Linked DNA regions of Homo sapiens. The protein of the gene in region 1 purifies or fractionates together with the protein of each later gene. This does not show direct contact. Each region holds a gene or a part of one and is shown on either strand. Other genes may lie near its edges.

What was found.
Region 2: the proteins of RGS1 (region 1) and ACACB purify together in Homo sapiens (affinity purification with mass spectrometry; 2 studies listed by BioGRID and IntAct, with this or other methods). This does not show direct contact.

What each region holds. Positions count from the first base shown.
Region 1 is NC_000001.11:192,568,142-192,585,069, forward strand, and holds RGS1 (regulator of G-protein signaling 1), read left to right. Parts: upstream 1-7,631; 5' UTR 7,632-7,651; coding exon 7,652-7,788; intron 7,789-8,143; coding exon 8,144-8,224; intron 8,225-8,632; coding exon 8,633-8,694; intron 8,695-10,080; coding exon 10,081-10,244; intron 10,245-10,995; coding exon 10,996-11,181; 3' UTR 11,182-11,883; downstream 11,884-16,928. UniProt on the Homo sapiens protein: Regulates G protein-coupled receptor signaling cascades, including signaling downstream of the N-formylpeptide chemoattractant receptors and leukotriene receptors. Inhibits B cell chemotaxis toward CXCL12.
Region 2 is NC_000012.12:109,111,704-109,128,879, forward strand, and holds the start of ACACB (acetyl-CoA carboxylase 2), read left to right. Parts: upstream 1-4,883; 5' UTR 4,884-5,001; intron 5,002-6,950; exon of another isoform or gene 6,951-7,081; intron 7,082-12,442; exon of another isoform or gene 12,443-15,892; intron 15,893-17,176. UniProt on the Homo sapiens protein: Mitochondrial enzyme that catalyzes the carboxylation of acetyl-CoA to malonyl-CoA and plays a central role in fatty acid metabolism.

The DNA.
Region 1 (16,928 bases):
TCTTCCCATGCCACTACCATAGCTGCAAGTTGCTGATGATCGCCTTTGACTTCTACACAAAGAAAACTGAAAAGAAGTTAGCTGATTTGATCAAACTCACACAGCAGGAAAAGGTATAGCTGTGAGAATTGGCTCACAGTCTTTTGAAATGTGAGATTTCAAAGCAGCAAGATGAACATGTCACTGGGATTCAACAGAATCAAAGCCTTTCATTTATTTTTTAAAATAGAATACAAATAAGATGGCAGACAAGGCTTAATAAAAAAAAAAAAAACAGAACAGACACAGAAAACAGTGGAACACCACAGACCACTTGTACTCACAATAATAGTAGTATACTGCTAAGCATGGACACTATCTGTTGACTTAGAGCTACTTTCTCAAGTAGGAAGATTATTACTACAAACAAATGTCCGGTAAGTCTGACACCAATATTTAGTAAAATAATAATAATAAAATATATAGGTATATATATTATATACACATATTATATAAATGTATACACTTTATATATATAGATATATGTAAATAGACATAAAAGCAAAGCATTAGAAAGGACATGAAGAAAGTGGAGTTAATGTGTTTGTCAGCAATAACTGGCATGGTTTTGGAAAGAACAGAACATGTCAGGAAATCTTGAGAGATTTTTCTAAGAAAATTATATAATTAATGAGGAAAAGCAAAGCAAATAAGTCTCTATTGTTAGCCACCTCGATGTTTAGTAAGAACAAAAGCAAATGAAATCACTGGAATAGTGTTATTAGAAACTTGGAAAGTTAACAGTCATTTATTGAAGTTGCTCTCTAATATTTAAAACATACCTCTGTATTAGGCCATTCTTGCATTGCTATAAAGAAATACCTGGTACTAAGTAATTTATTTTTTTAAAAAAGAAATTTAATTGGCTCATGGTTCTGCAGGCTATACAGGAAGCATAGCACTGGCATCTGCTTCTGGATAGGTCTCAGGAAGCTTCCAATCATGGCAGGAGGTGACAGGGGAGCAAGTGTCTCACATGGTGCCAGCAGGAGCAAGAGAGAGAGGGTTGTGGGGAGGGAGGTGCCACACTCTTTTAAACAACCAGATCTTGAGAGAACTCACTCACCATCATGAAGATCCTCCCCCATGAGCCAATCACCTCCTACCAGGTCCCACCTCCAACACTGGAGATTACAATACAACAAGAGATTTAGAGGGGACACATATCCAAACTATATCAATTCTGCCCCTTGCCCTCAAGCCTCAGTTTCTTCTCACACTGCAAAATACAAGTGTCCCTTCCCAACAGTCCCCCAAAGTCTTAAGACATTTCAGCATTAACTCAGAAATTCAAAGTCCAAAGTCTCATCCGAGACAAGGCAAGTCCCTTCCCCTTATGAGCCTATAAAATAAAAAACAAGTTACTTACTTCTAAGACACAATGGGGGTACAAGCATTAGGTAAACATTCTCACTCCAAAAGGGAAAAATCAGCCGAAAAAGGGGGCTACATGCTCCATGAAAGTCCAGAACCCAGCAGGGCAGTCTTTAAATCTTAAAGCTCCAAAATTATATCCTTTGACTCCATGTCCCACATGGAAGGCACAATGGAGCAAGGGGTAGACTCCCAATGCCCTGTGGATGTTTAGGGTGCAGCCCAAGTAGCTGCTCTCACAGGTTGGAACTGAGAGCCTGTGGTTTTTCCAGGCACAGGGTTCAAGCTGCCAGTGGCTCTACCATTCTGGGATCTGGAGGATGGTGGGTCCCTCCTCACAGCTCCACCCGTCAGTGCCCCAGTGGGGACTCTGTGTGGGGGCTCCAAAGCCACATTTTCTCTCCACATTGCCCTAGTAGAGGTTCTCTGTGAGGACTCTGCCCCTGAAGCAGGCTTCTGCCTGGCTACCCAGGCTTTCTTGCACACCCTCTGAAATCTAGGTGGAGGCTGCCAAGCCTCATTCACTCTTGCACTCTCTGTGCCTACAAGGTTAACCACACATGGAAGCTGCCAAGTTTTATAGCTTGTATCTTCTGAGGCAGCAGCCCTAGCTGTATCTAAGACCCTTTGAGCTGAGTCTGGAGCCAGAGCTGCCAGGATGCAGACAGCAGTGTCCTGAGGCTGCACCTAGCAGTGGAGCCCTTGGCCAAGCCCACAAAACCATCCTCCTAGGCCTCTAGGCCTGTGATGGGAGGGATTGCCCTGAAGGCCTCGAAATGCCTTTGAGGCCTTTCCCCCATTGTCTGGGATATTAGCACTTGGCTCCCTTTTCCAAGTATCTCTAGTAAATGGTTGCTCCACAGCTTGCTTGAATTCCTCTCCCACAAAAGCTTTTTCATTCCCTATCACATGGCTAGGCTGGAAATTTTCCAAACTTTTTTTCTCTGCTTCCCTTTTAAATAGAACTTCCAACTTGAAGTCATTTCTTTGCTTTTACATATAAGTGTAGGTTGTCAGAAGCAGCCAGGCCCCATCTTGAACACTTTGCTGCTTAGAAATTTCTTCTGCCAGATACTCTAAATCATCACTCTGAAATTCAAACTACCACAGGTCCCTAGGGCAGGGGCATAGTACAGCCAGGCTCTTTGCTAAGGCATAACATGCATGACCTTTGCTCCAGTTTCCGGTAAGATCCTCATTGCCATCTGAGACCTCCTCAGCCTGGACTTCATTGTCCATATCACTATCAGCATTTTGATCATGACCATTTAACCAGTCTCTAATAAATTCTAAATTTTCCATCATCTTCTCGTCTTCTTCTGAGCCCTCCAAACTCTTCCAACCTCTGCTTGTTACCCAGTTCCAAAGCTGCTTCCACATTTCAAGTAACTTTATAACAGTTCCCCCCTCCTCAGTACCAATTTTCTGTACTAGGCCATTCTTGTATTGCTATAAAGAAGTACCTAAGACTAAGTAATTTATTTAAAGAAAAGTGGTTTCATTGGCTCACGGTTCTGTAGCTTGCACAAGAAGCATAGAGCTGGCATCTGCTTCTGGGGAGGTCTCAGGAAGCTTCCAATCATGGCAGAAGATGAAGGGGGAACAGGTGTCTCACATGGCAGGAGCAAGAGAAATAGTTGTAGGGGACAGGGGCCACACTCTCTTAAACAATCAGGTCTTGAGAGAACTTACTCACCATTGTGAAGACAGCACCAAGCTATGAGGGATTCTCCCCCATGATCCAATCACCTCCCACCAGGCCCCATCTCAAACATTGGGAATTACAATTCAACATGAAATTTAGAGAGAACACAAATCCAAACTATATCACCTTCCTTTCCAAATCCTCTACATGCAGATATTTGAGCACCTCCATCATTTTTGCATTTATGTCATTGTTATGTAACAGAACATTCTATCCCAACTCCAAATAATGTGTCAGTGTTCATTTAGCATAGCTCTCCATTTATTTGGGTTTGGGAATAAGGCACCTCCTTCCATACTTACGAAATTTTATTTGCAAAGCACAGTCTAGAGTCAGACATAACTACTCTCTCTTGTTGAAAGGATTATAAGTGATAGTGTGACATTAAATGAAAATAAATCCAATATGGAATAAGTATACCAGAGATAATATTATCAAAAGATTTCCTCAGTGCTTTCAAGAATGTCTTGGAACACGGGCCTATTATCAAGAACTTAACTGGTAAAATTAGATTTAGGGTGAATGAGGCTTATTGAATCACATAAGCTCAGTTCACTGAAGGTCCCACATACTATTTTCTTGTAAATTCTCAAATTATAGAAAGGAGGCAGTCAGTGTTGACTGAAAGATTGGAGCAGAGTGAGAAAAAGAAACTAGATTCTTATCTTGCTCAGTTGCACTTACTGAGATCATTGAAGTTTAGTGTGTTGCATATATTTGCTCTTATTAAAACCCATCATATTTCTTCACAACAAAATCATAAGCAAGTCTAAAATGTTTAAACTTTTCATTCACACGATATAAAGTTTTCACCAACCCTCTATACACATACAGAGAAAAATCCTTCTAAACTCACTTTTGTTGCAGCTTTTTCAAATTTTCAAATAAACTCTATGAAATTTAGCTGAAACACTTTTAGTAGCCTTATCTATAAACCTTGAAGACCAAGGAAGCTCTGAGTGGTTATGCTAATTCAACTAAGTCATTCAGAGTACTTTTGAAAGTTTGCAAAGCTTTGTGAGTACATATGGGATCCATTTTTCCATGATCCTTCAACATAAAACTGGTCTCTTACTAGAGACCAGTTTCTCCATTGCAGCCATTTGAACTTTCCAAGGGATGCTAAACACAAATGCAGAAACAAGCAAAGAATAGATACATGTTGATTTTACAGTAAAGACAGCAGTACTTTGCTTCCTTTCTCATACTTCCAGAGGTAATTACTCCTCTGTGTTCTTTTCTCTGTACATTCCTCTCTGATGGCACCTCTCACAAACATCTGTCAGCCCCACTACACAGTGAACCCCTTAAGACAGAGATTCATTCATCTTTGTATCTGCAGTGCTTTATGTGTGATACACTGTAGGGATGCAATTAAACTTTGTTGAATCGAAACATTTTGTTTCAATGGATCAAGCTATCTTTCCACGTCACTGACTTTTCCAGTATGGATACATTTTTATTTTAAAATAGAATATTATACTCATCATTACCCCTTGTCTCACAATTCTAATATCCACAATAAGATTTTAGCAACATTTTAAAAGTTCAAACAACATCAGGTTTAAGGAAAGCACTCCCTATTAGTATTCCAGTAATTGGAGTAATTGAAACCAAATGTTTCCATTCAAATCAGTTCAGCAAAGATTAAAATTTTCCTTATTTTTCCTATCAATATCAACAGCCATAATCTGAAATGTCTTACTGAACCAATCTCCTAGGTATTTTAAAATATAACACTGGGATTTTTAGGGAAGGAAAAGTATTCTGTATGGTACTATAATGATGGATACATATCATGATACATTTGTCAAACTCATGGAATGTACAGCACCAAGAGTGAACTCTAATGTAAACTATAGATTTTAGATGATAATGCTGTGTCACTGTAGGTTCATCAATTATAACAAATATTTCACACTAACGAGGTATGGTGCTGGAGGTGGAGCTGGAGGCAAGGTGAAAGGTGGGGAGTTGTGGGAACTCTGTACTTTCCACTCAATTTTACTGTAAACCTAAAACTTCCCTAAAAATGAAGTCCATTAATTTTTCTTTAAAAAAAAAGATAACACTAAGACTACATGAAGTATTCCTTTTCCTAGAAACTCAAACCTAGATGTTTTAGCACAGTTTCAAAGAGGGAAAACTGAAACCCAGATCGTGAGACCCACTGTTTCTTCTACTGACGTTTTTGAAATCCTCTACTATTTCAACCAAAGTCATTGATTCAATAAAGTTACAATTTGACAGTTTATCTTTTCTTAGTGAAGTTTACAAAGAGGGGCCAGATAGTGGCACTCTCTTTAAAATTAATAGGGAACTTTCAATGCCCTGCCATGCACTTGTCACACTTGCTGATACAACTTGACCAAATTTGCCTTGTTCTGGAACACACAGACTTTGGGTGGATGAGCAAACAGCCTCTGAGAGAGCAGCTGCTTTATTGCATGACTAAGGTGACCTCATCAGCCAATTGTGATACAGGAATTTTGAAAGGACTCCCTCTTTCAAGAGTTTATATTTCTATTCAAGTGTGGAAGCATGCAGTTGTAAATGCTTGCGCTTCAAAATGTATATTGGGATAGGGGTAGCAAAATGTTGGGAGCATCAGAGCAGTTCCTAAATACACTACAGGCAAAAACTTATTTTGATCTCAGACCAGAGTTTCTTAACATAGTGTCAAAAAAACACATTATTTCAAAAAACTATTTTCCCTATCTAAAGAGGGTTTAGTTCTTTAACAAGTTAGGAGTCCAACATTTCCCAAACTTACTTGGCCCCATAATTTTTGCTGCTGCTCTTGTTCTTTGGAAACTGTCAGTATATTTGGATGATAATACTAGTGGGCTGTTAAAAATAATTTTTAAATCATTTTACTCTAACATAACTTACTCACAATTATTTAGAGGAGTGAGAGGATACTAGATCAACAAACATGAGCAATGTTGAAGATTTTAACAGGAAATTAAGTATGGACTGAACCACAGGAAGTATACAACCAAATGCCTTTATGTCATCTGTCTTTGAGTTTCATCGGTCTCATTAGGGTCACTTCCAAAGTGGCCAGCTCATCTCACCAGTTATCTTTCTTAATGCCTTATGTTATCTTCCCAACATAAAATGATGCTTGTTACATACAATATAATGAGCTCATTATAATGAAATTAATGACTGTGTATAAGTGAATTTTATAATATTGTAAATGTGTTTTCTTCAAATATTCTTTATCCTGACGATAGAACCAGAACAGAAAAATTAATACTCCCCTCCCTTTTATCAGCTTTACCTAATACCATCAGAAGCTTCACTAAGTAAATGCTTTTTTGTCCTTTTAAAGGAAAGTATTGTCCTTCCAGGGGTAAAATCCAAGGAGGCTTAAGTTAAACTGGGTACTCTATAAATAAGCCACACTTGTTATATAAACTTTTGAAAGCTTATATTTTACTAACTTCTCTATCCTTATAAATGATTAGTCATCTAGTTCCTTGAGTTTTGTTTGTGTTTTAAACTTTAATCTCAATTAAAGCTAAAACTGTTATCTCTCCAGAGATACTGCCAAAATGTGAAAGATCATTACCTAAGAAGTACACATTATTGGTCTATCCAAATAGACTTTTATTTTACCTTGAGCAGTTTTTCCTCTGATACTGTGACCTTGGTATCAGTATGTTTACAAATTATGTCATATTTGTATACAATTAAACATTTATTTATTTATGATTGGTTTTAATTAAACTTTATTTTTTCCTAATATGCAAAATATGCAAAAATCAAAGTTTGATATACTAGTTATATTCTTAATAAATATGAAAATAATATTAAAAACCATGCACCCCTTAAAATCATCCTATGTATTGCCAGTCGATGTCTAGCACACACCTTGGAAAATATTAACATGGAAATTTCCTGCCATGGAAATAAGGGATGAGAATTGGAGTGGGAAAATGTGAAGATAGCCTCTTATAACTTTCCCTCCTATCAGATATGTGCAAAATAATTAAACAAAAATTATTTGTTTACTTTGCCCTGCTTCCTGCAGAAAAGAAGAGAACTCTTAAAATATTTTGATCAGATGAATTTTATAGTCAAGGACTATCCAAAGCATGGAGTAAGATACAACTCTATGTGATGAATTTCTATGTGAGTTTCTATATGATAAATTAATACGCCAAATGAAACAGTTTATTGAAACATGCAACTTTTTTAAAATAAACAAACATCCTCCAGAACCAAAGACTGATGCTGTTAATGCTTTAGACATGTGACATATGTGTGTGTACCTCTGTATGTTTAATTTTCTTTCTTTCTAATCAAGTGACCTGTTCTCGTTTGGTTAAGTTTCAACCACAAGACACCACTGTATGCTTTTTTTTTTTCAAGATACACGTCACAGCACACCAAGAAAAGGGGAACTTCCAGTGTCTGTGGTAACATCACTTGATAAACAGACTCCTTTAAACAGCAAGTGCCTGTCTGCATTCTACTATATAAAGCAGCAGAGACGTTGACTAGCGCATATTTGCTAAGAGCACCATGCGCGCAGCAGCCATCTCCACTCCAAAGTTAGACAAAATGCCAGGAATGTTCTTCTCTGCTAACCCAAAGGAATTGAAAGGAACCACTCATTCACTTCTAGACGACAAAATGCAAAAAAGGAGGCCAAAGACTTTGTAAGTTTGTTCAGAGTCTCACTTTGTGAATTTTAACAAGTTATCTTTAATGGCAGAAGGATTGAGAATGAATGGAAGAGAGTGTGAGCATTTAGTTTAGCCAGATCAGAGGAGTTAATTGCCTGTTGTGAGTAATAAGTAATATTCAGCTGCATTAAAAAATAAATCTTGATATGGCATTAAATTGGGTAGGAGTTTTTCTCTACACAGGCTCATAAAAATGGGTTCTATAGCAAAATGTTGTATCAACCATTTTTAGTATTGCCTTATTCCTTAGAGAAATTTATTCTATGTCTTTTTACAAATAAAATGAATTCTGAAGAAATATGAATATTCACTTTTATGTCTTTTGTAGTGGAATGGATATGAAAGCATACCTGAGATCTATGATCCCACATCTGGAATCTGGAATGAAATCTTCCAAGTCCAAGGATGTGTAAGTACACTAATACACTAAACTATCATTATCATTTACAAGAGAAGCCTATGCATTATCTCTATATCCCAGCAAGGGATAAATACTGCGCACAGTAGACTTCATTTCTTTTAAGTAACATGCCAAATAAAATTAGACTATCAGTACCAATGTAAATTGAATACAAATGTGTACACACACATATTGGACTTTATCTATTTGGATTTTTTCAAATTTTATTGGCAGGTTTTTTTTTTCATAACTATAGTAACTCTAAGGGAAGTTTTGCATTTTGTGAATAAATTTTAACATATTTATTAGAACTACAGTTTCAGTTTGTGAAGTTATCAAAGTGTAACAGCCATTCTTATTTCATTTGTGCTTACATTTTAAAAATTGACTAATGTATGTACATTTTGTCCCCTGCAGACTTTCTGCTGCTGAAGTAATGCAATGGTCTCAATCTCTGGAAAAACTTCTTGCCAACCAAAGTAAGTATAACTATTGAATGTTTCTGGGTTCAGCTAAATACTCTAAAAAATTGAATGGCTTCACTAAATATAGTATTCTGGGTAGGATAGTATGCAAAAGGTTGTATTCTAGTTTGTCTGTAGTTACTGATAACTTCAGCATAGTATGCCTCTTAATAATGCTGACTTAGCACTCAATTCTGCCAACTCCTTTTAGACAAATTTGCCAAGACAATTAGGTATTTTCATAGATCATTATGGAGATAAAATTAAACATTGTGCTGGGATTCTGATATGTAAAAATTTTAAAAGTAAGCCAAATATTTTAATATGTACATTGCCATTTTGAAATCTGCCTAAAGAATGTATTTTTCTACACTTGGATGTAACAAGTATGATTCATTCATTCAATTAATTAAATTATCTTTCATACATTCATCATTCATCTCACCCTTATGTAGAGGACATTGTAGAGGTACCAAGGATTCAAAATCAAAGACAGTCTCTTACTGCCTTGAAGGTGGTTGAGATACATAACATAAATAATTGCATTATTATAACATGATAGTTTTTATGACATAAATATGATAGAAGGATTTTTAAGCACATATAGTCTTGTGGAGATTTTCTGATGAGAGAAGGTAAAGAATGAAATCAGCTTGCCATCCCCTTGTCTTGGGCATTACAATTCTACTGAGATTAGGACCTTTTTCAGAGGTGTAGATGAGCAGTGTGGTCTCTATCTCTAAAGAGTGAGATTATTCTTTTCTCCCCACAGACACCCTAAGGAGCTTTACTTGGGAATCACATTGTTCACTCTAGCTCAGCTGACTTTGTTTATAATTCAGCTAAACAAATAAATGGTATAGATATGGACCATAAATGGTGCCATATAAAAGTCTCAGTGAATGCTAGCAAACATAATTAGTACATCAGGCCTACAGATCATATATAGGCCTAACATTTTCTGGCTAATATAAATTAGATGGGGAAATTATATTTACTAATTATTGTGATGTTAATGCCTTTTGTCAGTGTTTGCTTTCCTAAAATACTCTCTACTCTGGCTAAGATTTGGCATATATAAAAGATGGTTTTATATTCAGTGGAGCAGAATTTCAATTCAAACCGCGGATAGAAGCAAAACAGTTTGGTAGCCACCATCAAGTAGCAATGTGACTATGAATGAGTTTGTCTGGCCCCAGATTCCTCTTCTATGAATGAAGAAATTTCAAATGACTTCTCATCTCTACAATCTATAACACAGCTATTTCAGCAGTAGCTGTCTCTTACCTTTGTATGAATAGGAAGCAATTGTATTTTTCTTACAAATTTCTTCTTCAAATTATTCATTTGTTGGTTCATTTAATTTAATTATCTCCCCACCCACCCCTCGTTTCTTTTTAGCTGGTCAAAATGTCTTTGGAAGTTTCCTAAAGTCTGAATTCAGTGAGGAGAATATTGAGTTCTGGCTGGCTTGTGAAGACTATAAGAAAACAGAGTCTGATCTTTTGCCCTGTAAAGCAGAAGAGATATATAAAGCATTTGTGCATTCAGATGCTGCTAAACAAGTGAGTATTAAGCTTATCATCATCAGTTTCTCCATAAAAGACCCTATATGCAGAAATAACATTTAATATATACAACAAGATAAAATCCTTTTGGGGTATATAATTTTACTTCTACATACTTAGGCATATAAATATAGTTCAGTGCAATGAGAATCTAATTTTCTATATTGGTGAGGGTTTCAGCACAGTAGAATAAAGAGACTGATTTTACAAAACCAGCTGCCATGATGAGGGTGAGGGAAGGGTTAAGGGTATTGTTACTGACCAGAACTGCATGTCAGGGAGTCCTTAATGAGTGCTCTTGTTTTGGATAAGAAAATGCAGATTAGCATAATGTATACAATTGCAGCAGCAAAAGTATTTCCAATTAACAGTATTACCAGATAAATATTCTTGGTCCAAGCAGAAAATATCAACAAAAAGAGCCTTCTTCTCCTGTAAATCTTAAATGCCTACATCACTCTTTATGATACATGGATCATCTTATGTGGATACTTAAATTTTTCATGTCTGCTTCTTTTGCCTCTCCTAACTATACTATGAGGAAATTTGGAACAAAGACATTTTTGTAATATTTCTTATCTCCTTCACACCTAGTATAGAGCTGATTTTACAAAGGCATTTAAGAGATATTTGAATTGATTTAAATGAGGCCTTAAAATTACTTTCTGAGGTGTTTCAAAAAACAGTAACATCATAAAATTTGCAGTAAAGAAAAGTATATATTAGCTAACAAGGTTTTCTTTTTTAGATCAATATTGACTTCCGCACTCGAGAATCTACAGCCAAGAAGATTAAAGCACCAACCCCCACGTGTTTTGATGAAGCACAAAAAGTCATATATACTCTTATGGAAAAGGACTCTTATCCCAGGTTCCTCAAATCAGATATTTACTTAAATCTTCTAAATGACCTGCAGGCTAATAGCCTAAAGTGACTGGTCCCTGGCTGAAGGGAATTAACAGATAGTATCAAGCGCAGAAGGAATGTGCCAGTATGGCTCCCTGGGTGAACAGCTTGGCCTTTTTTGGGTGTCTTGACAGGCCAAGAAGAACAAATGACTCAGAATGGATTAACATGAAAGTTATCCAGGCGCAGAGTTGAAGAAGCATAAGCAAGACAAAAACAGAGAGACCGCAGAAGGAGGAAGATACTGTGGTACTGTCATAAAAAACAGTGGAGCTCTGTATTAGAAAGCCCCTCAGAACTGGGAAGGCCAGGTAACTCTAGTTACACAGAAACTGTGACTAAAGTCTATGAAACTGATTACAACAGACTGTAAGAATCAAAGTCAACTGACATCTATGCTACATATTATTATATAGTTTGTACTGAGCTATTGAAGTCCCATTAACTTAAAGTATATGTTTTCAAATTGCCATTGCTACTATTGCTTGTCGGTGTTATTTTATTTTATTGTTTTTGACTTTGGAAGAGATGAACTGTGTATTTAACTTAAGCTATTGCTCTTAAAACCAGGGAGTCAGAATATATTTGTAAGTTAAATCATTGGTGCTAATAATAAATGTGGATTTTGTATTAAAATATATAGAAGCAATTTCTGTTTACATGTCCTTGCTACTTTTAAAAACTTGCATTTATTCCTCAGATTTTAAAAATAAATAAATAATTCATTTAAGATTCTTCTTTCTACCATCTCTTTTAACATCTAAAACTATTATCTAGTGAATACTATATTTTATGTATTAGTTTGGACAGAATTCACAATTTTTCTCTCTGCTATCACAAGGCACAAAATCAAACAAATATAATATGATCTCATGTTCAATAAGAAATTGAAGTCTTTTAAAAAGGGATAGAAAATTTATTTCAAGAGGTAATCTAATTAACAGCATATATTTTATTGTGAGTTAAAGTTCATAAAATCTAGACATATTTTCTCATTTAACATTCATAGCAATCCTATGAAAGCTGAGACTCAGAAAGATTAAGTCACTAGTTCTTAATTTTAGGTAACTCTCAAAATTATCTAGAATGTTAAAAAAACACACACATATCCCTGTTTTGGGGTCCCATACCAGAATGACTGAACCAAATCTCCAAAGGGTAGCATATGGGAATCTATATTTAAAAGAAAGCCCCAAGTGAGTCTGAAGATGATTTTATAATTCAGAGTTCAGAACCTGGGAATTAAGGGACAGTCATACTAGCAGGGATTGCCCAGAAGTCTTCCTACTACAACCTATTCTCCTTCCTCTATGTAACACTGCCACCCACTGATCAGAAGGCATTTCCTGAATCACTAAAGTCTGCAACAGTCCTAAGTGTCACCTAAGCAGGAAAAAAGACTCCAAAGTAGGGCTCACCTACAGAGAGAAGAAAAATCATCAAGATGATGCATATTCCTGAATAGCCTGTACAGCTCTTATCTCCCCGCGCACCTGTGCTTTATATTTTATTCAATAATCAGTCACTCACATATCACAATGAAATACGGTTAATGTATGGATAATCTCACTATGGACTGGTCCAGTCATCAGGCACACAGCAATGGTAAGGGGCAATATGCAGATCAGGTACAAACAGAATTATTCTTGAGTTGTCATGGGACAGAGTTTAAATTGGTTCTACTTTATGCTTTATTCCTGCTTTAAGTAAGAGAAACTTGGGAGTCCAGTGATAATAATAATAATGATAATAAGCATCATCATCATCAGTCATCTCTCTCTCAACTCATTCCATCACCAAATTCTGCCAATAATTCTTCTACAATCAGTGTCTGTGGTTAGAACATCGCTTGCTCTTTTTTATTACCCCATCCTAGTACAGGCTTTCATAGTTTGCCAATTCACATGACATGTTCTTTGTCTTCCCAGTGTCTTTTCTTTAATTTATCCTCTGAACAGCTACAAACATCATCTTCTGAAACACAGATTTGGCCACATCATTTCCCATGACATATAAAATGAAGTATACATGTCTCCCTCTGGGCTTCAAAACCCTCCCAGTGTAACCTTCATGATATAACTCTCATTACTCAACTCTGGGTATCCTTCCTACCTTGAAGTCACACTGGATTATTCACCTTATCTTATATAATTCCAAGCCTTCACTATCTCCAGCCTTTGGTTATGCTCTACTCTCTAAAATGCCCTTTCCTAACCCATTCCGGTTTTCAAAGTTAAAGCAATTCTTCAAGGTTTTGTTTGTTTTGTGTTGGTTTTTGAGACAAGTTTGCCTAGGCTGGAGTACAATGGCGTGATCATGGCTCACTGCAGCCTCAACCTCCCAGGCTCAAGTGATACCCCTGCCTCAGCTTCCCAAGCAGTTTCCAAGGACTGTCACATTAATTATAGTCCAGGCCTTCAAGACTGTGAGGAGCAAGCAGTGCAACTGTCTAACACACTCACCAGTCATACAATAAATGCTCTGGTTCTTCTCTTGACAAAATGCCAAAAACCATTCGATTTTAGACAGAAGATCAAAACAAGAAGCCTCTTCATTTTGACCAAAAAAAAAAAAAGTCATCCTGGTTGCATAGATTCAAAATAATGTAAAATACTTGAAAAGATAAATTTTTATTGTCACTTTTTTTTTTTTGGAGATGGAGTCTCACTCTGTCACCCAGGCTGGAGTGTAAGGGTGTGATCTCAGCTCACTGCAACCTCCACCTTCCGGGTTCAAGTGATTCTCCTGTCTCAGCCTCCCAAGTAGCTGGGGCTACAGGTGCCCACTACCATGCCTGGCTAATTTTTGTATTTTTAGTAGAGATGGGGTTTCACCATGTTGGTCAGGCTGGTCTCAAACTCCTGACCTCAAGTGATCCACCTGCCTCCCAACATGCTGGGATTACAGGCATTAGCCTCTACGCCTGGCCTATTGTCACTTTTTGTTATGATGTGACTGTTTCATTAGATCATTCACAAAATATAATTAGAGCTAGTGATATCTACTATTTAAAAAATTTGATCCAACTGGACAATCTGATTTTCAGTTCACAGGCTATGTTCTTTTGTAATACTAAAGCAATGGCAGTAAACAATAGCATGGCTAAAAGCCAAAAATGTTTTTTAAAATTTACTTTTCTCAAGCTTATTTTGCAGTACTTTAAAATATGCCTATCCCAGAAAGCTATGAATCTATGAAGGTGAAAATGTGGGTAATGGCGTCTCATAAAAATTACATATTTACCCATTTAGTTTACATGGAATGAAGTTCAAGTTTCTTTGTTTCTGTGTGCAAACATGGGCTGTATTATACTAGTAGGAATCTTTGACAATCTATTGTTGAAAATTAAAAAACTAAAATTTGTGAGGGAAAAAATATAGTAAAAGGTGGTTTAAAATGCCATCAATATAAATTATTTTATATAGCTATAGAATTTTTGCAAGACTAGGATGAAAACATCTATAAAACAAAAATCAACAGTCAGCTACAGAAATAACTCTATCCTTTTTGTTGAGAACAGTATCTTGAAGCTAAAGCTGTATCATCCCAATAGCAAAATTTTATATCTTACTACATGCCTAAACTAAATGAAACCTTCCTACAAAAAATAGAGACAAAATACAAAACCTTCTATGGATGTTTCTCTGCAGTAAATATTTGACTTGGTATATACTCCTCAGTGGCTCCTTTACTTTGAATATGAAAATAGGACAAAAAGAAAAGACAGAAAGAGAGAGGGAGAAAGGGAAAGGAAAAGGGAGATGGGAAGAGGGAGGGAGAGAGGGGGGAGCACAGGAGGAAGGGAGGGAGAAGAAGAGAAGAGAAAAGGAAAAAGCATTGGTGAAGCATCTTAACGTATCTCATTTGATAATCTGAATGACTGAACTGTCATACTTTTAATATTTTACCTTCTCAAATTGAAATTTTAATCCAAAAAGGATTTTGCTGTAATTTAGAGTTGGCTATATAGACTTACTATAAAACTTCCATAACTTCATAACTGATAGATTAGGCCAGGGATGTCAATCTAAGTCTAAAAGAACCAAATTTAGAAACCTATGGGAACCATGCCTTAATTTGGAATATTGCCCCCATTTAGGGAAGATCCATATGGTACACTTGATGATTGAGAAAGGAGTCAAGCTTGCAGGATTAGGGAGCTGATTTATTTACATGGGAAGAAACAGTGTATTGTAAGTAAATTGTTTTAATTTAGAAAACTTTGTTGGTCATGTTTATTATGTTTTCGAATTTAATGTTTACATCCTCTTCCCTCCCTCTCCTGTCGAACTCATAAGCAGGGTCAGATGTCAGCTAGGAGCCACCTAGCTGAGTATGACCACTTCAAATATTTTAGGGAGCATTTCAAATGAACACGCTCTATGTCACTCGAATGAAAGAAAAACCAGCTTCCTCACTTCTCAAATAAAAACTCTAAGACTTCCTGGAAGATTTTTTTTAGTAAAAAAGCTATTCAAATAATACATTATAATAGACATGGGCTTTGTTCATCCAGGAAAAGTACTGGATTTGCTTTTGTTCTATGTTTAACTTGCATTTTTACTTTTACTTGTCATAATAGTAGCTGGTTTCTTTTGTCCTTTTTTTCGTCCTCTTTTTTTTACAGGGAAGGGATGTTACGGTGGATCTTGAAGAACAAATATAACCCAACCAGGGGAGAAAGAAGGTGAGAACATTCCAGATTCAGGGAATAGTCTTAAAAAGTCTGGAAATCAGGAAAAAAAATACTGTGTTCAACAATAGTGATTTATTTAGTTTGGCTGGAATATATAGGGAAAGAGAAAGTATAAGAGGGAAAGCTAAAAAGGTAGTTTAGAGAAGATTCAGAGAGAAAATATAGTCTACTCCGAAAAGAGTGAATTTTTATCTTTTACAGGATAGGTAACCACTGACGTTTTAAGCAAAAGAATAAAGTCTTAATTGTTTCTGAATGTCTACTATGGGGCAGGCACTGTGCTGGATACATGTGTTATCTGTTTAATCCACTTTAAACTTCTTTGAGGTGAGTATTGTTAGGCTCATTTTATTGATCCACAAATGCAGAAACAAGTGGAAAAAAGTATCTAACAACATATAACTAGTGAATGGCAGATCTAAGATTTGAACCTAGGTTTGTATCTTTCCAAAGACTCCCCATTATGTCATGATTCTTCATGGAAGGGAGATGATTTATTTGTGTTTTAAAAAGGGTAATTCTAGATTAACTATGAAAGACACTTGCAAAAGAAGACATAATTGAGGAAGGAAACCCAAATATGAGGCTGGTTTTGTAGCCCAGCAAATGAGAATCTGAGCCTGAAATAGGGCAGTAATCAAGGCAATGGGAAGGACAGGGCGAATAGGCAATACTTGGTGAGCAATTTGCTTCGACGAATAATTAATAGAGAGAATTTAGGATACATTTGAGGTGATTCGGCTGGGCTCCCAAAATTACAGCAATGTCCTCTGCTCTAACATACTGTCGATGAGGTCCTTCCATTACAAATGCTCATTAAACAATGTGGAAATAGAATGTGGTAGCACTGGAGGAAGATTAAGGCACACACTTTCAAGAGTTTCCACATGCAAAATAAATTATGCAGTATTTTCAGTAGACAATGGTTTATTCCAATTACCATGTATATGAAACATTCCACATGTTTTCTCTCAAAGCTCACTTTTAACTTGGACAAAAGCAGAGGCTTGCAAGACACAATCCAGGCTGAGAACAAAAAACAAGGATCAAGAAACTCAAAAGAATTGCAGCAAGTAATA
Region 2 (17,176 bases), on another chromosome or scaffold:
CACTACCACGCCCGGCTAATTTTTGTACTTTTAGTAGAGAAACTTTTAACTAAATGGGCAAGAAAGAATGCATCCAGCCAGAACCTCGAGACTAGCAAATGCATTTCTTAAAAGGGCAGGGAGGGAGACCAGAGTTTGCTTGAAAATACTGCTTCCTTTCCTTATCTATGTAGGGAAGGGTTTATCATTCTACATTTTGTGGTCAGCAAGCTGGCTTTCACGGGAGGAGGATGCATGGTCGATTTGCCCTCTGGTAACTTTGGGATCTTCCTCTAAACAACAGTGGACTCCCTTAGCCAAGGAAGAAGTGAAGGGATAATTGTGCTTACACCAGTTAGCTTTTCACACTTCTCTCTCTCCCGGTGCAGCACTGCCGGTAGGGGGAGCAGTGAGCTCCAAGTTTCCAGGAATAATTCAAAACACAATTATTTTATATTTTAAAATATAAAATGTATATTTTAAATATATATACATACATTTCTATATAATATATACAAAAGTTCAATATACGTATATTGAATATATATGTATATAAGTTCAATATATATGTATGTATATTCAATATATATGTATGTATATATGTATATATATTCAATATATATGTGTATATATTGAACTTTAGTCATGTGGTGACACTTTAAACAGTACACAGAGCAGCTTCTGGGTCCATGACCCTCCAAAAATTTAATTACTGATTCTTTAGAAACTAGGCAACTCAGCCAGGTGTGGGGGCTCACGCCTGTAATCCCAGCACTTTGGGTGGCCGAGGTGGGTGGATCACCTGAGGTCGGGAGTTCAAGACCAGCCTGACCAGCATGGAGAAACCCTGTCTCCACTAAAAATACAAAATTAGCCAGGCGTGGTGGCACATGCCTGTAATCCCAGCTACTTGGGAGGCTGAGGCAGGAGAATCACTTGAACCCGGGCGATCGCACCATTGCACTCCAGACTGGGCAACAAGAGCATAAGAGCAAAACTCCGTCTCAAAAAAAAAAAAAAAAAAAAACCAACCAGGCAACTCATTTTGATGAACTCTTAGCTATGTGGTAGTTGCTTTTTTCATGTGTCAAGTCTGCTATATTCCTGCACTCAGTATGCAAAGATGCATAAAAGGCAGTCTTAGCCTTTTAGGTCAGCGGTTGGCAAACTTTCTGTGAAGGGTCAGGTGGTAAATATTTGAGGGTTTGCAGTTACCCGTTCTCCGTGGGAACTGCTCAACAACTCACTGCAGAGAAAGCAGCCGTGGGCAAAACGTACAGGAACGGGCGAGGCTGTGTTCCAATAAAACTTTATTATTTATGGACACTGAAATTAGATTTTAATATGATTTTCATGTGTCACGAAATCTTTTTTTTTCCTAAGCATTTAACAAATGTAAAAACCACTCCTAGCTTGGGAGCTATTGGAAAACAGGCATCTGGAACCACAGTCTGCAGACCCCTGTGTGTACTCACTGTCAGTGCGGTGGGAACAAAAAGGCAGCAACGGCTGGGTCAGCCCAGGAAAGAAGACATTTCCCAGTGGAGAGAATGTCTGAGTGGATATTGAACTTTCCAGGCCACAAAGAGGAACAAGAGCATTCAACACTGAGGAGCCTGCCTCTGCAAAGGCAGGACCCACATGCTGGATGTGGAGCTGGATGGTTCCACGTGGCAAGGTTTGGGAGGCTTCTGAGAACCTGGCCTAATGATTCCTGTTTCCTCCCTTTTCAGGTGAGTTAGGGAGATCTCTGACAGCTTTTGGAATTGGTAACACAAGGAAGTCAGTTATTAGCAAATGTTGTACTGGAAACGTCCAGTTATAAAATAATTAATTGTGTGAAAGTCACTGCCTGCTTTTGATCTACATCCAGCAGGGGAAGGTCAGGGACTATAAATTGTTTGCATTTTTTAAAGATAGACTTTAGCATGTTGCTAGTATGCTTGCATTATTAGATAATACATCTCTGTTCAAATTCACTTTCTGCTTCAGTTTGCTTCTCATATAAAAGTCTTCGCAAGTATGTTTGGTGGAGAAGCAAACTTTTTGGCGTATGCGTGTGGTGTTGGCTTTTCATCCTTGCCAAACCTTCAAGATTTGCAAGGAAAAACAGGTTGCAGGGAGGTGCTCTGGGTTACTTTGAAAAGACCTCACATGCTGACTTGTGCTGACTCAAGCTGAGGAAAGCTAGAACATTCCTCTGCTGGAGATGGCCTCCTTGTTTAGAGTCCTTCTGACACTGTAATTTGGGTCTGACAACAGGAAGTTCCTTTGTAGTTTAAGTCAATGGGAACCAATTTTTTTTTCTTTTTTTTGCGATAGAGTCTCACTCTGTTTCTTAAGATGGAGTACAGTGACTCAGTCATGGCTCACTGCAGCCTCAACTTCCTGGGTTCAGGTGATCCTCCTGCCTCAGCCTCCTGAGCAGCTGGGACCACTGGTATGCACCACCATACCTGGCTAAGTTTTTAATAGAAATGGGGTCTTGCTAAGTTGCCCAGGCTAGGGAACCAGTTTTTAAGTTTTTGAAATATGCTTGGAAATATAAATATTGGTGAGCGGAGCAGACCAGGAGATCAATAATTTATGTTCTCTGCTTGTTAGTTGTGTATATAGCATGTTCTTTTGTCTCTCTTAATGATGTTTGGGGTGAGGGTGTGGGAGAGGAAGGTAGGGAGCCTTCCAACAAGAAGCTAGTGCTCCTCCAGCCTAGAGAAGCTAAAACATGCAAAGCCAGACCCCATCCCTGGAAATTCTGATTTAATTGGTGGGGGAAGGCATGTGAATTCTCACAGAGGGTCCGGTTTGCAGCAGGACTGGTGATTTCTTTCCAGGTGCCTTGTTTTGTTAGACCATGTGGTCACTTAATAATTTTTTTTGGGCCAGGTACAGTGGCTCATACCTGTAATCCCAGTGCTTTAGGAGGCAAGGCAAGAAGATCGCTTTAGGCCAGGAGTTCAAGACCAACTTGGGCAACATAATGAGACCTTGTCTTTAAAAAAAAAAAATTTTTTTTTTTTTAATTAGCCAGGGGTGGTGTGTGCCTGTAGTTCTAGCTACTTGGGAAGCTGAGGCAGGAGGATCATTTGAGCCCAGGAGTTCGAGGCTGCAGTGAGCTATGATCATGCCACTGCACTCCATCCAGCCTGGGCAACAGAGCAAGATCCTATTTCTAAAACAAAACAAAACAAAACAAAAAATGTAACTTGATACCTGTGACTTTCTGAAACTAACAGCTGTTTGAAGAAATATATTTCTATTACCGTTCTTGTGTTTGATGGAAAGAGTTTATGAATAACTTTGGTTTCAAGCCTTCCAATTATATTCTGGAAAATACCTGTGTCTTAAAGAGATAGTGTCTAGGGAGAACTGAATCACTGCAGAGTTCTTCACCTGTATGTGTGGGTATGTCTAGTCTTTTTGCAAGTAATGAATTTCATTAGAAAGATATTAAGTGCTTGTCATGAGCAAGCCCCTGTGCCAGAAACTCAATATAAATCATTTCATTTTCTCACCCATATGGTGAAGTAGTTGATGAGGACACTGAAGCTCAGCCATTTGCTCAAAGTCATGGCTAATGGAGGGAGGATTCAAACCCACATCAGCTTGATTTCAAAGCCTAATAGTCCTGCCACTGTCAACACCCTGCCTAGATCATGATTATTTGGAATCACTGGGAAAGAATTTTTTTTTCATGAAGTTAGAAGCCTAAGAATTTTTTTCAATGGAATTTTATAAAAATGTCCTTGAATCACAGATGGCTCTCCCTGGAAACATAGGTTTGTTTGAGAGTCACCTCTTTTATTGTCTTAATAAATAGACTAAGAGCCATCACAAGGGCTACTGTGGCTAGAGAACATATGACTCGGGCCGGGCATTGTGCAGGCATTTGACCTGCATTCCTTCACCCCGGTTCCTGTAACATGTACCTGGTGCTGTGGGGTTACAGCTGATAATGCTGAGGTTTCCAGAGCACATGCTTCCAAGTCCAGTGGAGAAAATCCCAAGAAGTCCAATATTCAATGACTGTTCCTTATTGCAAAATAAGCCCAGAAACAAAGTAGCTGTGAACAGGCTGCACCAGCCCCAGCAGCAATTTCCATTTAAACCATTTTGCACAGATCCCGTGCTCAGCGCTCTCGCCAGTTTCTCCACTTGCTGTTTAGTAAGGCCATCATTGTTGGCAGGAAGTGGGTTCCACCTTCCCTGTTGCCTGAGCACAATGTGCTCCTATGTGGTCTCCACTTTCCTGCTGCCTAGTTGGCTGGGCTTCTCCAGCTGGGCCTTGGAGGCGACCTTTGTCCCACATGCCAGCCCTCCCCACGTTGCAGAACACTATGTAACTGCAGCGTGTGCTGAATTTCCTCTTCTGTGCTCAACCCTAGCAAGAGCCAGTCAACCCTGAATGAGAATGTGGCAATGGAGCTGTTTTTTTCTTTTATCCCCAAGTCACAAGAAATTGGAAACATTCCATTAAGTGGCGTGATTTGAGAGGGTTTCGCCAAATCTTTTCAGGGGAGAGAAGCCAGGTGACCTGATAGCGATCACCTTCCCATTCACGGTTTTCAATGGGGGCTTGTTTCTCAAATGACCAACACCTGTAGGCAGTTAATTTTCAGCATGTCACAGGAGGGCCCAGATGACTTTCTGCCTACTGCTTACGACAACATGGACTTTAGATGCCTCATGGCTTCAACAGCTAAGAATTATGAAATAAAGCGAGTTATGGGATTAAAAGGCAGATAGCAGAACTCTCCCAGGAGTAGCCAGGGCTGCACAAGTGGTTTGACGTGGGATCTTTCTCATCTTTGCCCCGGGTTGTTGCTGCTTTGAAGGTTAAGTGCTCCAGGGATATTTTTAAACAGCAGGGGCTGATTAATCTAAAAGTGACATTTGCAGTCCCCAGAGTAAGCAGCTAGCAGGCTTAGATTCAGGCCCTCAGCAAACAAGGAACCTGGAAAATGTAACCCTGAATGCACGGTGGGGAGGACATGGCAAGAGAAAAGCGGCAGGAATAAAGTGGTAAGTCAGCTCGCCCCTCCCCGGGGTCCGGACCATTCTGCCAACGTCCAGGTAAATTCGAACCCAATGTATAGTGAGAGCAGACCCTGTCTGAAGGCATGCACTTGGGGTCCCCGGGGAAAAACGACTCCCGTCATGTTTGAAGGAAGCTAATCAGAAGAGCTCGAAATGTAACGCAGATGAAAGAGAAGGGCCTTTCTTTGCTTCTATAAATGGTGGTGTGGATCCCTGGACATGCTCCCATATAAGTTCCACAACGTTTTATAAACAATTCTGTTTTTTGCCTCCAAAGCTACTGTCTTAAGGAATAGTATTCTGTTTCTGTTTCCTCAAATGGTTGTTCTTTTTTTTTTTTTTTTTTTTTTTAAAGCAGACTAAGGCTGGGCACGGTGGCTCATGCCACCCAGCACCTTGGGAGGCAGAGGCAGGTGGATCACTTGAGGTCAGGAGTTCGAGACCAGCCTGGCCAACATGGCGAAACCCCATCTGTACTAAACACATAAAAATTAGCCAGATGTGGTGATGGGCACCTGTAATCCCAGCTACTTGGGAGGCTGAGGCAGGAGAATCGCTTGAACCCAGGAGGTGGGGGTTGCAGTGAGCTAAAATTGCGCCACTGCATTCCAGCCTGACTGACAGAGCAAGACTCTGTCTCAAAAAAAAAAAAAAAGAAAAGAAAAAGAAAAAAAGGAGACTAAGAGTAAAGCGTTTGTAGTGGTCCTATATCCTATATTTCTAGGAAGACATGACTTTCTTTCAATGTTGAAAAAATGCATTCCAAAATAATATGCAAGTTAAAAAGTCACTCAGCACCGTGCAAAAGTCTCCTTGCTGTTATTCCTGTCTAACCCTCCTCCTCCAGGTAGCCACTGTGCACATTTTGGTATAAACCCCCCAGACCTTTTATTCTGTACACTCACACTGTACACAACTCTCTCCCTCATGTCTATTGTGATTACTTTTATTTTTTAATATCAATGGGCATCCATATAGGTTGGGTGACCAACCATCCCACTTTGCCCAGGACCGGGGAATTCCCGGGACATGGGACTTGCAATTTAAAAACTGAAAGGTGAAGATATTATTATTATCATTATTATTTGAGATGGAGTGCTCACTGCAAGCTCCGCCTCCTGGGTTCACGCCATTCTCCTGCCTCAGCCTCCCAAGTAGCTGGGACTACAGGCACCCACTACCACGCCCGGCTAATTTTTTTTGTATTTTTAGTAGAGACAGGGTTTCACTGTGTTAGCCAGGATGGTCTCGATCTCCTGACCTCAAGTGATCCGCCCGCCTCGGCCTCCCAGAGTGCTGGGATTACAGGCATGAGCCACCGCGCCTGGCCAAAGATATCATTTTATAAATTGCATGTTTCTGCTAATAGTGACATGGAGTTCTTTACAAGATTTCTTTTTATGACTTCTCCAAGTTTTAAGTGGAAAGACCCAGCCAATCCTAATTCATGTGATTTAGAGATGAAAATATCTCTAATCTGTAACTTTCTTTCAGAAGCTCTTAAGAGTTTTATTTGCTCCTGCTCAGGTGTTGTGTAAACTCGCTCATACTTTCAACACCTTTAGGTCTGAGACAGAAATTTGAGTATTACATTACATGAGATACCCAGTCTTCATGGGGAAATAAACATTTTAATCTTTTGAAATGGAGGTTTCCTTGAAGTCTTATCCCAGTAGAAACTTTGACCTTGTTCTTTTTTTTTTTTTTTTTTTGAGACAGAGTCTCGTCCTGTCACCCAGGCTGGAGTGCGATGGCACAATCTCAGCTCACTGCAACCCCTGCCTCCCAGGTTCAAGCAATTCCTCAGTCTCAGTCTCCCGAGTAGCTGGGATTGCAGGCAAGCACTACCACGCCCAGCTAATTTTTGTATTTTTAGTAGAGATGGGGTTTTGCCATGTTGGCCAGGCTGGTCTCGAACTCCTGACCTCAAGTGATCTGCTCACCTTGGCCTCCCAAAGTGCTGGGATTACGGGCATGAGCCACTGCACCCGGCCTGGAATACCTTGTTCTCATGCTTCCTCTGAATTTGTGATTCAGTGACTTGTTACTTCAAAGTAGAGTTCACCTGTACCCAGGGAAACCAGGAAACAGAGTTAGAAATATTGCATTTGATCGGAAAAATGTATGCACATTTCACATCCTATCCTAATAGATCTCTCTGTTTGCAGTGATAATAGTAAATTTATGACCGTAGAGTAAGGTGATTTTCTAGGAAGATAGACCGTGTTCATTTATTCCAGGAATCCAGGGATCCTTGTATCAGAGAATCCAGGCTGGGCACAGCAGAGAAACCAAGGTATTGATTATTGGGTAGTTGGCATACCCCAGGTATGCCATAATAATTATGGGATCTCACATAATTTTGAGGACAATCCTAGGAAGGAGATTTTATTTATTCCATTCCACAGGCCAGGAAACCAAGGTTCAGAGAATTTCCATGATGGGCTCAGGCCAATCAGATAACAAATGGCAAAGCCTCCACCCAAGTCTGCTGTACTCCAGAAGTCCTGCTCTCTGGGCTCATACCTTAGCCACTCTGACCCTTGCTGGGGCCCCAGAAAACAACTACACATAGAAAAGGTCTCTTCAGGCCAGACACAGTGGCTCACGCCTGTAATCCCAGCACTTTGGGAGGCTGAGGAGCTAGATCACTTGAGGTCAGGAGTTTGAGACCAACCTGGCCAACATGGTGAAACCCTTTCTCTACTAAAAATACAAAAATTAGCTGGGTGTGGTGGCTAGTGCCTGTAAACCCAGCGACTTGGGAGGCTGAGGTAGGAGAATCACTTGAACACAGGAGGTGGAGCTTGCCGTGAACCGAGATGGTGCCACCGCACTCCAGCCTGGGCAACAGAGCAAGACTCTGTCTCAAAAAAAAAAAAAAAATGATTTTGAGACAGGGCTGGGTGGCTCACGCCTATAATCCCAGCACTTTGGGAGGCTGAGGCAGGCAGATCACTTGAGGTCAGGAGTTCAAGGCCAGCCTGACCAACATGGCAAAACCCTGTCTCTACTAAAAATACAAAAATTAGCCAGTTATGGTGGTGCGCCTGTAATCCCAGCTACCTGGGAGGCTGAGGCAGGAGAATCGCTTGAAACTGGGAACCAGACGTTGCAGCAAGCTGAGATCGCGCCACTGCACTCTAGCCTGGGCGACAGAGCGAGACTCCATCTCAGAAGAAAAAAAAAAAGGATTAAAGGATTTTCCACCACTCCTGTTGAACTAATTAAGCTCCATATTTTTAAATTAAATAATGAGTGAAGGTGATATCAGAGGACAACTTGAACACACTCTCCTTTCTATTTAGAAGCAAATCAGCTGCAGACTTCAATACTAGCTATTATAGAATAATCAGTTGTTGGACATGCCCCTCCCAACTGACCTAGAAGGCTTTCTCTGCTGTGTTATAAGGAAGGCTTCGGTCTTTTATTTCCATACTCCCCACAAAGTGAGGCTTTTGGAGCTCTTCTGATATGGAGAGCTGCCCATGCAAGGTGGAAACAGGCCTCCAGGGCCAATCAGTTTGGGAAACACCAGGCTGCCTGTGGTTTACAGCAGGACTTCTCAGAGCCTTTACTATGCTAAATGCAGTGGGACTCTCCAAGATGTGACATTGGGATTTGGCCCTAGAAATGTTATTTTTTGGCAAGGGTGGGGACCATCTTTCAGGATTGGTATTCATAGCCACCTCTTGCAAAACATGGAACCGTTTCATTCCATGCCTTCCTCATCTCCTTGCAGGATCCTGGGAGGCAGGACCATGGAGTGGATGAGGTTCACAGGCTCGAGCTCTTGAGCAGGGGGCAAGGGGTGTGTGTGTGCATGTGTGTATGCATGCATGTGTGTGTGTATGTGTGTGTGTGTAAATAGAGCACTGTCTCCCAGGGTTCTGGATGAATTTGAACAGGGAGAAAGTAGAATTGATTCAGTGAGATCTGCTAACAGGCTGTTGCACTAGCTCAGCCTTGGAGTGAGGCAATGGTGGGCGTAGGGGAAGGGATGAAGAAAACACACCCACACACGTGTGCCACACACGTGCACACCTGGAGCTGGAGGGCCCAGCCCGGGGCCCAGCTCTGCCACTCACTGATGTGACTCTGAACAACAGACTTTCTCTCTGTGCCTCATCTTATCATTTTTGTGAACATTTAAAGAGATAACACACACAAAGTGCACAGCATAAGACTCAGTGTGTAGGAGGTGCTCAACAAACATCAGCTTTCTTTTTTATTTTTTTGAGACATAGTCTTGCTCTGTTGCCCAGGCTGGGGTGCAGTGGCGTGATCTCAGCTAACTGCAACCTCCACCTCCCAGGTTCAAGCGATTCTCCTGCCTCAGCCTCCCAAGTAGCTGGGACCACAGGTGCATATCACCACACTCGGCTAATTTTTGTATTTTTAGTAGAAACAGGGTTTCACCATGTTGGCCAGGCTGGTCTCGAACTCCTGACCTCAAGTGATCTGCCCGCCTAGGCCTCCCAAAGTGCTGGGATTACAGGCATGAGAGACCACACCTGCCAGCTTTCATTCTTATTCAACATGCTTTTATGGGTTCCTTGAGGGACTACTATATGCCTCCTAGTGTATACTGGAGTTACAAAAGAACCCTATTTTCAGAGTTGCAAATAGACTGGGGAAGGGGTCGGGGGAGATGAAGTCAGAAATTGATGATAAATCTGTGCCCCTCTGGGTTTTAAGCCTTGCCTGCTCTCACAGATCTTACCTTCTAGTGGGGGACACTGGTAGATGTGTAATAATGACCCACATAACTACAACCTATGATGAGTGCCAGGAGGAAGAGATCAGGGAACTGTGGGGCATAGAGCAAGAGCATGGTGTTCCATGGCATCTCTCTGGTGGCCCCTGATACAGCAGTATGAGGGAGCAGCCAGCAGGGGTTCAACAGCCGTGCAGATGCCTGTGCCCAGGGCCTCACCTGGACACTCCCAGCCCCAAGGACTCAGTGGAGCAGGAGGATTCCCCAGGTAGGCAGCAGGGGTGGGGGTGGCACAGACACACCTGAGCTGGGTGCAGGCCTCCAGCAAGTGTTCACTGACCCTGACGCTTCTGTGTGCTAGGCACTGTGCTGGAGAGCCCAGAGCAAGACAGAGCCACTCCTTGCCCTTAGGAAGCTTCTATTCCAGTGGAGAAGAGGCATAAACTCATTGGTGAATGCAGAGAGTCAGGTCAGCACGTGATGAATGGCACGTGTCCTACAGAATAAGACCACTGAGTATCAGGGTGGGTTTGAGGTGGGGACACTGAAGCCAACCATCAGAAAAAGAGCAAGAGATAACCATGCAAAGGACAGAAGTGGGGGCAGGGAAGGGAAGAACATTCCAGAACATTCCAGGCAGCATGTGCAGAGGAACGTAGAGGGGTCAGTGTGGCAGAGGCCGGTTTGCCAGGGCCATGTAGACCATGGAAAGGGGTGCAGTGAGCAATCATTGAAAAGGTGAAATTCAGTTTATCTGCTTACTACCCGGGTGAGTGACTTTGCGTCACTTCAACTTCTCGAACCCAGAACTTCCTCATCAATAAAACGAGGCTTCCCCTGCTACTGGTCTCACAAGGTGGAATGAGACAATGATTATAAAATGCTTCATATAGGCCAGGTATGGTGGTTCATGCCTGTAATCCCAGTGCTTTGGGAGGCCAAGGCGGGAGGATTGCTTGAGTCCCTGTCTGTATAAAATATAAAAAGTTTCGCTGGGCGTGGTGGCACATGCCTGTAATCCCAGTGCTTTGGGAGGCCGAGGAGGGGGATTGCTTGAGCCCAGGAATTCAAGGCTGCAATGAGCTATGATTGTGCCACTGCACTCCAGCCTAGGCGCCAGAGTCAGACATTGTCTCAAAAAAAAAAAAAAAAAAAAAAAAAGATGCTGAATACAGAGCCTAGCACAAATTAGTACTCATAAGTATTAGCTATTAATATTCAGGTTTCAGTCAGCTGGTGGGTACTTGCATTGTATTTTATGAACTTTTTAACTTTTTGGTATAGGAAAAAAAGTTGACCTGTTTTTTTTTAACACCTTCAGAAGCAGAGTAAATAGCACAGTGGTCCCCCAATGCATTCATCAGCCAGCTTCAATAACCATTGCCTTTCTGCCCTTCTAGTTTCATCTTCCTATACCCATTTTCCCTATATTATTCCCCCAACATTTTATTATAAAAAAATTTAAGCTGGGTGCAGTGGCTCATGCCTGTAATCCCAGCACTTTGGGGGCCAAAGTGGGCGGATCACGAGGTCAGGAGATCGAGACCATCCTGGCTAACATGGTGAAACCCCGTCTCTACTAAAAATACAAAAAATTAGCCGGGCGTGGTGGCAGGTGCCTGTAGTCCCAGCTACTCAGGAGGTTGAGGCAGGAGAATGGCATGAACCCAGGAGGCGGAGCTTGCAGTGAGCCGAGATCGCACCACTGCACTCCAGCCTGGGCGACAGAGCGAGACTCCATCTCAAAAAAAAAAAAAAAATTTTTAAACATACAAGTTGAAAGAATTTTACAGTGGGTGCCCATATACCCCTGATTAGATTCTGCCATTACCATTTTTCTGTATTTGTCACCTGTAAATTGCAGATATCAGTGTCTTTATCCTTGAATACTTCAACATGCATGTCATTAATTAGAGCTCCAGAGTTTTTTTTGTTTGTTTGTTTATTTGTTTGTTTTAAGAGACAGGGTCTTAGGCCGAGCGTGGTGGCTCACATCTGTAATTCCAGCACTTTGGGAGGCCGAGGCGGGCAGATCACTTGAGGCCAGGAGTTTAAGACCAGCCTGGCCAACATGGAAAAACGCCCATCTCTACAAAAAATACAAAAATTAGCCAGGCCTGGTGGCATGCACCTGTAATCCCAACTACTCAGGAGGCTGAGGCAGGAGAATCTTTTGAACCTGGGAGGCAGAGGTTGCATTGAGCCAAGATTGTGCCACTACACTCCAGCCTGGGTGACAGAGTGAGACCCTGTCTCAAAAAAAAGAAAAGAGACAGGGTCTCACTCTGTCGCCCAGGCTGGAGTGCAGTGGCACAATCTCGGCTCACTTGCAGCCTCTACTACCCTGGGCTCCCATCTCAGCCTCCAGAGTAGCTGGGACTACAGGGACACACCACCACGCCTGGCTAATTTTTTTTTTTTAATTTTTATTTTTTAGGTAACAGAGTTTGCCATGTTGCTCGGGCTGGTCTTGAACTCCTGGGCTCAAGCGATCCTCCTGCCTTGGCCTCCCAAAGTGCTGGGATTATAGATGTGAGCCACTGCATCTGGCCCCCAGACTATTTTCAAGCAATTCTCACAGCTAGATGTCACACTGTTTTGCCCGTAATACTTTAGCACACATTTCTAAAAGACACAAGTTTTTTTTTTAAACCATTGCCATAATTATATCTATCTAACAGAATGAATGATAATTCCTTAATCTAGTACCTAGTTCATGCTGACTGTCCTCCAGGTGGCTCAAAGATGTCTTTGAATGGTTTTATTCAAATCAGGACCCACAGGGTTTCTCTTAAGTCTCCTCATCTGTAATAATCAGCAACTCCCTTTATTAAATGCCAGTTACTTATTGAAACTGGGTCATTTGTCCCGTAGAATTTTCCATATTCTGGATTTGGCTGATTGCATCTTCCAAGTGTCATCTAACATGTTCTTCTATACCTATAAATAAGTACTAGGTCAAGAGGCTTGAATCAATTCAGGTGCAGATCCTTAGCAGGAATACTTTGAAGGTGTTTTTCTGTTTTCTCTTGCATCACGTCAAGAACATAAAGTTCAGTTACCCCACTTTTAGTGATTTTTGTTCATTAGTGAGTTTAGGGTATCAGTCTGACCTCCGTCGTAAAGTTCCCTATCACCCTCTTGCCGAATGACTTTACTGCCTGCTGATGAGCAAAGCCCAGATTATTGTTTCGTTACTATAGTGATTTTCTACTTCCGTCAATCTTTCTGTGCTTATTAGCTCTTGTTGTTTTTTGTTGTTGTTGTTGTTGTTTCTGGTTTTGTTTGTTTGTTTTGAGACAGGGTCTCTCTCTGTCATCCAGGCTAGAGTGCAGTGGCACAATCTTGGCTCACTGCAACCTCAACTTGTCAGGTTCAAGCGATCCTCCTGCCTCAGCCTCTTGAGTAGCTGGGACCACAGGCGCTCGCCACCATGCCTGGCTAATTTTATGTATTTTTGATAGAGATGAGGTTTCACTACATTGCCCAGGCTGGTCTCAAACCTGAGCTCAAACGATACTCCCGCCTTGGCCTTCCAAAGAGCTGGCATTACAGGCATGAGCCACTGTGCCCGGCCCAACTCTCATTGTTCTCTACCACACGACTTTCCTCAAGCATTTGCTTACCCTGAAATACAGTCCCTGAAAGGCAGAGTACATGGTTGATTATGTCCTTTTTTTGTGTGTGGGCGGGGCTAAGTCTATTTTCAGAGTAATGAGTAGCCCTAGCAGCCATGAAAAGTATCAACGAGTTGTTTTTGTTTTGAGGGGTGTTACGACCTTATGGTTTTTAAAGATATTTTGATGTGTTTCAATCCACTGCAGTCATCATCCGTTTGCAGCCTCTCTTTGGTAGCCCATGCCCCTGGAGGGTCCTTGTTTTCAGGCAAGAAGATATCTCAGCTCATCATGTACATTTCTGCCCCAGCCCTAGAATCAGACATTTCTCCAAGGAGTCCTGGTTCCTTTCAGTGGGAAATGTTCTTAGAGACATTATAATCTGGACACTAACGATGTCTGTGGAATTTTTACAAGATCGCCTTGGCTTCTCTGTGCATGATGAACTGGAGGGACAAGACCAGGCCAGAGAGACAGGTCAAGAGACTTTCGCAGTGGCCCAAGTGAGATATAACAGTGGCTTGAACTTGATCTTAGGTAAATCACTTAGCGCAATGCTTGGTACATGATGGAGAGCACCATAAATGGTAGCACACTCTTTCATCAATGACTTGATCTGTATTAGTTTACTTAAACTCCAAAACTGTATGAGGAAGACTTCCTTATCATTGTATACATGAGAAAACCCAAGCTCAGAGAGGTGAGGAAACTTGTTCAAGGTCACACAGGAAATGAACAGCAGAAATAGAACCTGAATCCAGATCTCGTGCTCTAACCAATGCACTGTGTCGCCCAGAGGGTTCTTGGTTTCACACTCAAAAATGACTTACATTTTGGTGCAAAACCTGATCCATCACGAGTTCATGGCGATTCTCCTGGTTGTGCCCTCAGGTTTGTGATTTTATTTGCTTCCCAGTGAGATCATAAACCCACGAGGGCAGGGCTGGGCCATTCCTGCCTGTTTGCTCCATGTCTCCAGCAGCGTGTACCACACCTGGCAGGTGCTCAGGAAATACCTGCTGATGAATGAGTGAATGGCTGAAGAAGGCAAATTCACAGCACAGCAGGGGGAGAAGCGAAGAAGGATAGGATTCCACCTGTGAAGATGGCAAGGACCAGAACTTAGGAGAGCTGAACAGTGGACTTCAGCAATTTCTGCAGGGATAATTCAAGTGAGAGGCTAGCCAGACAGATCAGACTGATAGGCCTTTAGACTGCGGAACATGTTTTCCATTGGAGGTGGAAAAACGGCTCCTCTTACCTTCCTTCAAGGCAGGGGCCGATCTGGAACCATTCAGGCCAGTTTTGCTTGGGATGGCAGATTCACCACATCAAGAATTTGATCTGAACCAGGCATGGTGGCTTATGCCTGTAATCCCAGAACTTTGGGAGGAAGAGGTGGGAAGATTGCTTGAGGACAGGAGTTCAAGACCAGCCTGGGCAACACAGAAAGACCCTATCTCTACAAAATATAAAAAAGATTAGCTAGATGTCGTGGTGTGCACCTGTAGTCCCAGCTATTTGGGAGGCTAAAACAGGAGGATTGCTTGATCCCAGGAGTTCGAGGCTGCTGTCAGTTACAATTGTGCCACTGGACTCCAGCCTGGGTGACAGAGAGAGACCTTGTCTCTACACACACAAAAAAAATAAAAAATAAAAAGAAAGAAAAAAGAAGTTTGGTTTGTCTCAACAGGCATTAATTGAGCACCTACAGTGTACCAGGCATTGTGGATGTGCATCTTTCTGGGTCTATACTCTCAGAGGGCCCTGGGAGACTCAATCATTTGAGTAATTTCCTGGCTGAGGGAGAAGCTGAAATGTACAGGCTTCTCTTAAATATGTTTTGCTCCCTGAAGTTGTTCCAAAATCAGAGGCCTTGAATGCTGTACACCCGTACTCTAGGATGGAATGGTTTGGGATTTGGCACAAAACCAGAGATGTAGTAATCTTTTGCTTACTCTAGCAGTACTGGCTGGGATTCCCTGAAGACCCAGATGCTCTGACATGTTGTAAGTTTGAAAACTGCTGACCCTCTTTTGGGTGTCTTTTTCAGGCTCTGATTCCACCAATCCAATAGGGTAGCCCATTAAACAATTGAATCAACGACCTGGTCACCTCCGCCTATGACAAATCTAGCTTTAGAGTCAGGTAGCCCAGGGTCGAATGCCATGTATACCTCCAAGCTGTGTGACTTCAAACAAGTCACTCCACCTCTCTGGACATTGGATTCTCATGTGTGAAATGGGATACTTGTAAACAAGATGCTTATAGTGGAAGGCATTATTGGTATTATTAATTATTAGGACAAAGCTCTTACTCAGGAGTTCAAGATCAGCCTGGGCAACAAAGTGAGATCCTGTCTCTACAGAAAAAAAAAAAACCCAAAAAACCAAAAATTAGCTGGGCATGGTGGCACACGCCTGTAGTCCCAGCTACTCTGGAGGCTGAGGTAGGAGGATGGCTTCAGCCTGGGAGGCAGAGGTTGCAGTGAGCCAAGATCATGCCACTGCACTCTGGCCTGGGTGATAGATCCAGAATTCGCCTAAAAAAAAAAAAAGAATAAAGTTCTTAGTATTTGCAGTCAGGGAGTGTCAGGGAGCACACTCACTCCCTAGATTCCTAGAGATGACAGTTGCAATTATTTTGCTGTCCCCGAACATTTGTTCCTCTGGTGTAAGGGAGCATGGTGTGTCACCAGTGCCGTCAAGCACAGTTGCAGGGGAAGGCGAAGTTCTTGGATCACACCATGGGGTGTGCCTTTTCAAGTCTTACAGTTCGCAGGGAGGGTAGACCTCCCTCCACTGCCAGCTAAAAGTTGTCACGTATCTTCTTCAGATGTAAAAATCTTAAAGGATCATCCTTCACAACATAGCTGATTTGCTAATCACAGCTCCTGCTTTAGGAACTTTGGCAGAGTCCCCAAGAGTAAATTCTGCTTGAGATGTCCTGCTCCCTTGGCAGCCTGGCGAGCTCCTATTCAACCTTCAAAGTCCCAGTGCAGATGCTCTTTACTTTTTGCTCTCCCTCACGTCTGTCTCCAACCCGGAAGGTATCCTCTCTGAACTGCCTTCTAGATGTGGCTTTTCCTGATTCTGAGATTCTAGCAATTAGATCTTATGGAGTTTTGCTCTGTCGCCCAGGCCGCAGTGCAGTGGTGTGATCTCGGCTCACTGCAACCTCCACCTCCCGGGTTCAAGTGATTCTCCTGCCTCAGCCTCCCTAGTAGCTGGGATTACTGCTGCCTGCCACCACACCTGGCTAATTTTTTTGGACTTTTTTTATTTTATTTTATTTTATTTTTTAGACGGAGTTTCACTCTTGTTTCCCAGGCTGGAGTGCAATGGCACGATCTTGGCTCATTGCAACTTCCGCCTCCTGGGTTCAAGTGATTCTCCCACCTCAGCCTCCCAAGTAGCTGGGATTACAGGCACCCACCACCACGCCCAGCTAATTTTTTGTGTTTTTAGTAGAGACGGGGTTTCACTATGTTGGCCAGGCTGGTCTCGAACTCCCGAACTCAAGTGATCTGCCCCCCTCAGCCTCCCAAAGTGCTGGGATTACGGGCGTGAGCCACTGCACCCAGTCAGTAATTAGATTTTAATTTTAAAAGTTTTTCTTTATTTGGGCAGAACATAGCTATCTCCCCAAAAGTCTTTCCAAGAAGAACCCAAAGTCTACAGAAGTACTTTTGTTGCTTTCTTTTTTTTTTTTTTAAAGCAATAATAGATGGACTTTTTTTTCCCAATTTAATTAATTAATTTGTTTTCTGAGACAGGGTCTCGCTATGTTACCCAGGCTGGTCCTGAACTGCTGGGCGCAAACAATC